Homo sapiens: one gene and its partner. The protein of the gene in region 2 interacts with the protein of the main gene of each other region in a pairwise test. Each region holds a gene or a part of one and is shown on either strand. Other genes may lie near its edges.

The links. Proteins that work in one complex are often made in the same cells at the same time.
Region 1: the proteins of ADAT3 (region 2) and THRB interact in a two-hybrid assay, tested with the Homo sapiens proteins (one large-scale study listed by BioGRID and IntAct).

The regions. Positions count from the first base shown.
Region 1 is NC_000003.12:24,141,501-24,145,477, forward strand, and holds part of THRB (thyroid hormone receptor beta), read right to left. Parts: intron 2,207-3,977; coding exon 2,001-2,206; intron 1-2,000.
Region 2 is NC_000019.10:1,907,727-1,912,082, reverse strand, and holds part of ADAT3 (probable inactive tRNA-specific adenosine deaminase-like protein 3), read right to left. Parts: intron 194-4,356; 5' UTR 36-193; coding exon 1-35.

The DNA of each region.
Region 1 (3,977 bases), on a different chromosome or scaffold from region 2:
TACCACTACCTGCATTTATTTTGTTTGTTTATCTCTTATTATCTGCCTCCCACTAGAGGAATGTGCCTGACTTATTTACTTTCTGGCACATAGTATCCACTCAATAAATGTTTCTTAAATAAAGGAACAAATCTTTAAAGTCTGGAAAGAAGCACCTTATGACTACTTAAACAAGTTTAGTTGGACTAGTATCCCTTCTCTATGGGGAGTAAAGACAATAAAAGTATAAAATTCCCGGGAGAAGTCCAGGATGAACTTCAAATCTTCTACCTTACTTGGAATTCAGCTTGGTCACGACTTGAAATCAGGAGACAGTGCCAGGCCTGGAAGTGGTTTCTACAATGTCCATTTATGGGTGACACATTTGGGGAAAGGATGGATTTAAGTTTGCAATTAGGTAGGACTCTGTCTTGCTATGCCCCAAGTGTACTGTGTTAGAATTTGTCTATCAATCCAGAATTAGTGCTTTTGAATTTTCTGGCAGATATACCAGGGTGGGGTGAAGATGCAAGATCAAGGCACTGAGAGGCTGCTCCTCCAAAGAGCTGGGATCTTTCAGAGGCTTTTTGGGTTTGTGCAGGTGCCAAGATTGCATAGGGTAGTGGATAGAGACATAAATCCCGGAGCTGGCTGCATCCATCACCACTGTTTACCAGTTGTGGGAGCTCAGGCAAGTTTCCTCAACTTCTGTGTCTTACTTCTCTCTTCTGTAAAATGGAGATATTAACCACATCTACCTACAGGATTGGTATAGGAAGTTAATGAATGAAAAGCACTTAGAATAGTACCTGGCATATGGTAAAGGCCATCTAGGTATTTGCTGACATTGCTGTTAGTGAAAGCCATCAACAAAGTGCTGGCACTATTGTTTCATTACAACGAAAGTAATTGTGTCAGTACAGGTGAATTATGTATAAGCCTTTTCTTTCCAAAACTTCCTTTAAGGTTGTTGTTATGTTGTTTTAAGAAAAAGATCCACTATCTCATTGTAATGTTAATGTTGAGGTACAAGGATAATTATACCACTATATCTTCTTGTTCAGATGGGGAAGTACTCTAATGTGTCCTAGGGATACAAATGAAACCACAGAATATCTGTTGTCAGGTAGGTACTTGAAAAGGGTTTTATATCATAAACTAAGAGCAGAGTCAGTCTCTGAGATGGTCCAGCACTAGTAGGGCACGTAGTCTTTCTAATGAGGTGGGTGGAGAGCCTGGACTTGGAACCAGAAGACCGAGTTGGTTTTGGTGCCTGGCTTTTAGCAGTGCGATCCTGGGCAAGCGGCTTAAGGCCTTGGGCTTGGTTTGCATGTCTGTAAAATGGGGATAGTAATTCCAGCTTACCTCAAAACACTATGAAGTCTGAATAAAAAATGAATGGGAAGAATTTTCACAACTGGTAATTTTTATAAGAATATTAAACATCAATATTGCAAGGGTCTGGAAGGTCTTTTTTCTCTACACACTCGTGCCCACCAACCCTATCCCTACTCCCTCATTCCCATTGCCCTTCTTGAGTCAAGCTCATTTAATTTAAGCTAAAAAATTTTGACTTCTGTTGACATAAAAATATACTTGAGGCCTAGAGGCTATTATAAAGGGAATATTTGGGATTGAGTTCAGGGACTAAATATGTATATACTGGGCATCTAAGGAAAGAAATGGGTATAGAAAGTAAAAGATGGCAGACAAAACATTTTACTAATTAGTTGGTCTGGGAGTGGTCTTTCTAACAGTAAAAGCAAACTGATATAATGTGGCCTAAGAAACTGTTTTAGAATTCAGCAAATCACAAAGTAGATGGTAGGAGTGGCCTTTATTCTCACACAGACCTAGACTCAAATCCTAGCTTTGCAAGTTACTCAGCCTCTCAGAGCTACGGTTTCCCTATCAGTAAAATGAGGCAATAACACCAGTATCCCAAGGTGATGAGGACTGAATAAATTGAGGTAGAAAACACTGGCATATAAGTGAAACTGATCTGTGCAAGGAAGCCTTACCAGGAATTTCCGTTTTTGCTTCCAGTGGCTGCCTTGGGCGTTGGTCGCCACATGGGCTTCGGTGACAGTTTTGATGAGCTCCCATTCCTCGTCTGTGGGCTCTGGCTTGTGCCCGATGGACTTCTGCAGCTCTTCCCGCCGTCTTTTCTCCCGGTTCTCCTCTATCAGCTTCCTCTTGGCCAGCCTCTTGCTGTCATCCAGCACCACTGGGAGGGGGAGAAAGATGAGACAAGGCACACAGATGCTCCCAAGATACACAGCAAGCTGCACTTCCTGGAGCCTCAGGAGTGGGACCACTGATGCACAGATGGCTTACTGGGTCCTTCGGGGTGGGTCACACTGGGACAGTTTCTCTCCTCACCAGCAAACTGCCATTGACTAGTCTTGTCCAACATGGTCTCTAGAGCCAAACTCCCCATGACCGGCCAGCTTTTCAAAACAAAGTCCCCAGAGAACCTAGACACTGCGCACTCCAACTCCACAGAAGGTGGTTCTAAAACAGAGTGAAGCAGAGAGGTAAAATCCATACTACCCACAAGATCACAGAGAAATCTGTCCAGCCAGTCATCCGAATTCACTCTCTGGGTTTCTGTCCTCCCCGCTTCCCCTAAAACGGCTCTTAGTAAAGAGAACTTCAGGTTAAAGAAACGTTATGGAATTAAAAAAAGAAACGTTATGGAGCAGTAAGTGGGAGGCTCGTGATCCCTTTTTTTAAGAGGAAAAAGGACCCCAACTCTTCATGGCTCCCTTAAGGGCTAATTGGAATGTGGCTGGGCCTCACCTGGGCCTCAAGGTACTCACTGTACATTATTCTCTACCTGGTCCACCCTCAAGGGTGGTTAAAGAGTCCAGGCTTTGGAATCTAGAAAGACTTGGGTTTGAATTCTGATATTATTACATTCTAGCTGTGTGACCTCTGGCAAGTTCCTTAGGTTCTCTGAGCTTTCATTTCTTCCTATACAAAATGGGCTCAATAATACCCACTTCACAGAGTATTCAATGTGATAATGCATTATAAGTGCTCAGTAAATGCAGTCCTGACTTCTATCATTTGGGTGAAAGGAAAATCAGAAGGGCAGGTAACAAGAAACCTATATTTCTGTGGTCAATTTCCAAAACCAAAACCGTTTCACTAGACTTGGTAACTATCAATGGAATGGAAAGGCTCAGGTTTTACATTGCAGAGTCATAGTATTTTAGAACTGGAAGGGAACTTAGACGTCATCTAGTCCTACTCTGTCTTTTCACAGAAAGAAGAAGAAATTGATCCAGAGAGGTCGTGACTTGCCTAAAGTCACAGAGCAAGTTAATGGCAGAGCCAAGGCAAGACCCAGGACTCCTGACTCCAGTTCTACGACATCACTGTCCTAGGGCCATTTCTTGATGAAGGTGTGACCTGGTAGGAAAAGAAAAAAAGCAGACATAGCAAGAGAAGGAGAACCAAGGTGCCTAGCTAGTCTCCCATTTAAATATTCTAATTTAAAGAGAATATTAAATTCCAGACCATTTAGATTTGATTGGATTGTCAAAGTCATGTGAGCGCTTACAAATGAGGAAAATATGAATGAGCCCTGTTAAGTCATTTTGGTTCAGTTACTAAAGGGAAAGGAGGAATGGTAATAATACCCTCAACCCCTTCCCAAATGCTTCCGGTGTGCCAGGGACTGTTGTATTTGATGAACATTATCTAATTTAATCTTGAAAACAACTCTACAAGGTAGGCAATGATTTCACAGAAGGAAAATCTCAGCTTAATTCCAAAGGTCACACAGCTAGTAAGTGACAGATCTGGGACTCGAACAGAAGTTTTTCTGATTAGAAAGCCTGAGCTCTTAGAATCCCTCACAAGCAAGTAAAGGGCACTCAAAATTTATTTCCATACAGTCTAGATTAACACTGAGTTTTTAAACCTCATAGACACTAGTATCTTAAACTTCTCAATAGAACACTGAAATAGATAATCAATAATAAGTTTGT
Region 2 (4,356 bases):
GACTGTGGGAGACAGAGACGGGAGCAGAGGATCATCCGGCGGCTGCGGGCGGCTGGGGGAGAGCCGGGGAGTCCGTCCCGGGAGGCCGTGGCTCCACAAGGCAGGGCGTGCTGCCACCAAAGCTGAGGCTAGTCCGAGGGCTCCGGCCCAGGTCACCGCATCAGAGCTACACTCCCTCATGTCCTGCTAACCCCTGGTGTGCACAGAGTTTAAACAGCCATTGGTTTTTAAAAACGAAGATATAATTCACCTACCAGAAGACAGATCATTTTCTTTTTTTTTTATTTTATTTTTTTACTTCTGAGACGGAGTCTCGCTGTCGCCCAGGCTGGAGTACAGTGGCATGATCTCAGCTCACTGCAACCTCCGCCTCCCGGGTTCAAGCTATTCTCATGCCTCAGCCTCCAGAGTAACTGGGATTACAGGCATGCGCCACCACGCCCGACTAATTTTTGTGTATTTTTAGTAGAGATGGGATTTCACCACGTCGTTCAGGCTGGTCTCGAACTCCTAACCTCACGTGATCCACCCGCTTCAACCTGGTGGTGGGATTACAGGTGTGAGTCACTGCGCCCAGCCAAGACAGGTCATTTTCAAAAGCACAATTCATGGCTAGGTACCAGCGGCTCACGCCTGTAATCCCAGCACTATGGGAGGCCGAGGTGGGGGGATCACTTGAGCCCAGGAGTTTAAGACCAGCCTAGGCAACATAACAACACCCCATTTCTACTAAATATCAAAAAATTAGCTGGGCGTGGTGGCACACACCGGTGGTTTCAGCTACTCGAGAAGCTGAAACAGGAGGAGCACTTGAGGCCGGAAATTCAAGGCTGCAGTGAGCTACAATCGTGCCACTGTACCCCAGCCTGGCTGACAGAGCAAGATGCCATCTCAAAAAAAAAATGAAAACCCGGGCACGGTGGCTCACGCCTGTAATCCTAGCACTTTGGGAGGCCGAGGCAGGCGGATCACAAGGTCAGGAGATCAAGACCATCCTGGCTAACACGGTGAAACCCCGTCTCTACTAAAAATACAAAGAATTGGCCAGGCCTGGTGGCACGCACCTGTAGTCCCAGCTACTAGGGAGGCTGAGGCTTGCAGGAGAACCCAGAAGGTTGAACCTGGGAGGCGCAGGTTACATTGAGCCGAGATCGCGCCACTGCACTCCAGCCTGGTAACAGCGCGAGACTGTCAAAAAACAACAAAAAAGCCAGGCGTGGTGGCTTAAGCCTGTAATCCCAGCACTTTGGGAGGCTGAGGCGGGCAGATCATGAGGCCACGAGATCGAGACCAGCCTGACCAACATGGTGAAACCCCATCTCTACTAAAAATACAAAAATTAGCTGGGCATGGTGCCACGCACCTGTAATCCCAGCTACTCAGGAAGCTGAGGCAAGAGAATTGCTTGAACCTGGGAGGCAGAGGTTGCAGTGAGCCGAGATCGTGCCACTGCACTCCAGCCTGGTGACAGAGCGAGACTCTGTCTCAAAAAAAAAAAAAAAAAAAAGACACCTCAAAAACCAAAAACTATCAAGTGTCCTATTCAGTGGCTCTTAGGACACTTGGAGTTGTGCAACCATCACCACTATAAAATTCCAGAACATTCCATCACCCCTAAGAGAAAACTTGTCTCACCACCCTACAACACACACAGCAACCCAGGCAACCACTGATGTGATCTCTGCATCTCCAGAAGCCAGAGCCTGGAAGCAGAAGCGGGGACAGGCGGCGCCTGGCTTCCAGACAGAAGGGCCATGTGGCCAGGAACTGAGCAGGACCCTTGGTCCCCCGGCCGCAAGCTGCTGAATTCCGCCAACGCCTGCGTGAGTTGCAAGCAGATGCCACCCCCGTTGAGCCTCCAGATGACAACACAGCCCTGGCTGACACCTGGGTTCCAGCCCGGTGAGACCCCGCAGAGAGGAGCCAGCCATGTCACATTCAGGCCCCGACCCACAGAACCGGGAGCTGGCGGGTGTTGTATTAAGCCCACAGATGCACGGAGTCTGCTATGCAGTGACAGAAAGCAAGCATGCCAAGTGTGGGGGACACGGGGCCCCCTCCCAGAACAGCACACAGCCTGGCACTGACACGGAACACCCACCTCCAGTGGTTTCTGTAAACACTCGCCCCCTAGTCGGCCAAGGGCTAGGAAAAGAGAGACCTCAGAAGACAAGCCACGAAACGTAAGCCCCGGAGCGCAGCCCCTCCCCTGGTGGGCCCGACTTCCCATCCCTTGACCACATTCCTGCAGCTGTGGTGGGCCCTGGCTGTCGGGTGGAGCAGGCAGCCACTGGGGTGTCCCTGCTTACTCAGTCACAGAGGAGGCCCTGGCTGGAGTGGGGCTGCGGGAAGAGCTGGGATCACTCCCGGGGCTCCTGCTAACATCCCTGACTGCCGGGCAGTGTGCCAAGGCGGCTCTCGGGTGAGAACCTCCCGGCCTGACATCACCAGCACTGTTACCATCCCTGCCGCTGGCACAGGTGAGGACATCCCTGCTGCTGGCACAGGTGAAGACATCCCAGCCACTGGCACAGGTGAGGACGGGAGGCAGTAAAGCCGTTACCATCCCTGCTGCTGGCACAGGTGAGGACAGGAGATAGTAGAGCCATTACCATCCCTGCTGCTGGCACAGGTGGACATGAGGCAGTAGGGCCACTCCACTGGAGAGGAAGGGCTGGTGGGGCCCCCAGCTCTCGGGATCCGCCCATTAGAAGGGAGCCTGCCCTAGGCGGGCAGACAGCACAGCAGAGAGGCAGGCGTGGGGACAGCCAGCCTGCAGGGACTGCTCACAGGGCCCTGGGGGACAGCGCCTCTGGCTCCCACATCTCTGGCATCCACCCCACCTGAACACCCCCAAACCACAGTCTCAGCTGGCCAGCCTTCCCCCACCTGCATCTGCCCCCACAGACTCGCACCGCAGGCCTGAGGTTGGATTACAGGCGTAAGCCACCATGCCCAGCCCACATTTTTTTTTTTTTCAGACAGAGTCTCACTCTGTTGCCCAGGCTGGAGTGCAGTGGCATGATCTCAGCTCACTGCAACCTCCACTTCCCAGGTTCAAGCGATTCTCCTGCCTCAGCCCCCCTAGTAGCTGGGAATACAGGCACATGCCACCACGCCCGGCTAATTTTTGTATTTTCAGTAGAGACGGGGTTCCACCATGTTGGCCAGGCTGGTCTTGGAACTCCTGACCTCAGGTGATCCACCTGCCTCAGCCTCCCAAAGTGCTGGGATTACAGGTGTGAGCCACCGTGCCCAGCCCACATTGCTTAAAAGTATAAATTAGTTGGGCACGGTGGTGTGCACATGTAGTCCCAGCTACTCAGGAGACCAAGGCGAGAGGATCACTTAAGCACAGGAGTTTGAGACCAACGTGGGCAAGATAGAGAGACCCTGTTCCTTTTTTCAAATAAATAAATAATAATAAAATCCTAAAAACCTTACTACCTGTGTGCTCACAGTTATTTCTAGCAGACAGTACTGCCTCAGATGGTGCTGGGGCTAAGCCGCAGATGATCTTAAAATGACTCCAGCCGGGTGATCCTGAACTGCCAGCCTGGACTACACATCCCCGCTGGTATGGACGGCTCCTCCCGCAGACAGGGATGTGTCTCTGGATCATTTCGCAGCCGCGCAGCTGTGGGTGCTACTCCTCGACATGCACTGCCTGGTCCACGCCTCAGCCGCCGGGGCGCCCCACAGATGGGGGACCAGCAGCCAGTGGAACTCCAGGCCAGTGGCCTTGGAGGTCACGCTGAAGCGGCCCCAGCGCTGCCCGAAGCTCACGCGTTCAACAAAGCACAGAACCGGAGATGCAGTGGGAGCCGGGAGCAGGAAGCGCGGAGGCAGCGCCAGGTGCTGCCGCTGCCCGAGGCCCCGTGCCAGGTGGGGCCCATAGCAGCCGACTCGCTGGGCCCTCCCAAAACGCACACCACGCGCGACCAGGACCGAGAGGCCCGCACGGCCCTGCTAGGCCACAAACACTCCACTGTCTCCAGGGTAAAAGACAAACACAGCCTCGCTTGTCCCTCCAAGAGTACAACCTCTGTCTGATGAAAAACAAACGACCCAGAGAGGAGGCAGCTGCCGGGACACTGCAGGCTGGGCCCGCCGCGCCCTTGGAGGGCAGGTCAAAATCCCGGAACAGGCACAGTGTTCAGGCTGATTGACTGTCCCAGGCCAGGGCGGCCTCAACTGCCAGAGCACCTCCTACCTACCTGCTATGGCCCGGGGGGACGACTCACTCCCACAGCGACTGCCCCCCAACAGCAGGGGGCCACCTGACCCTCCCTCTACCACACCCACCCAGAAGGCAGGCGACCGACCACTGGGACCCCTCAGGAGGGCAGGCAGCCC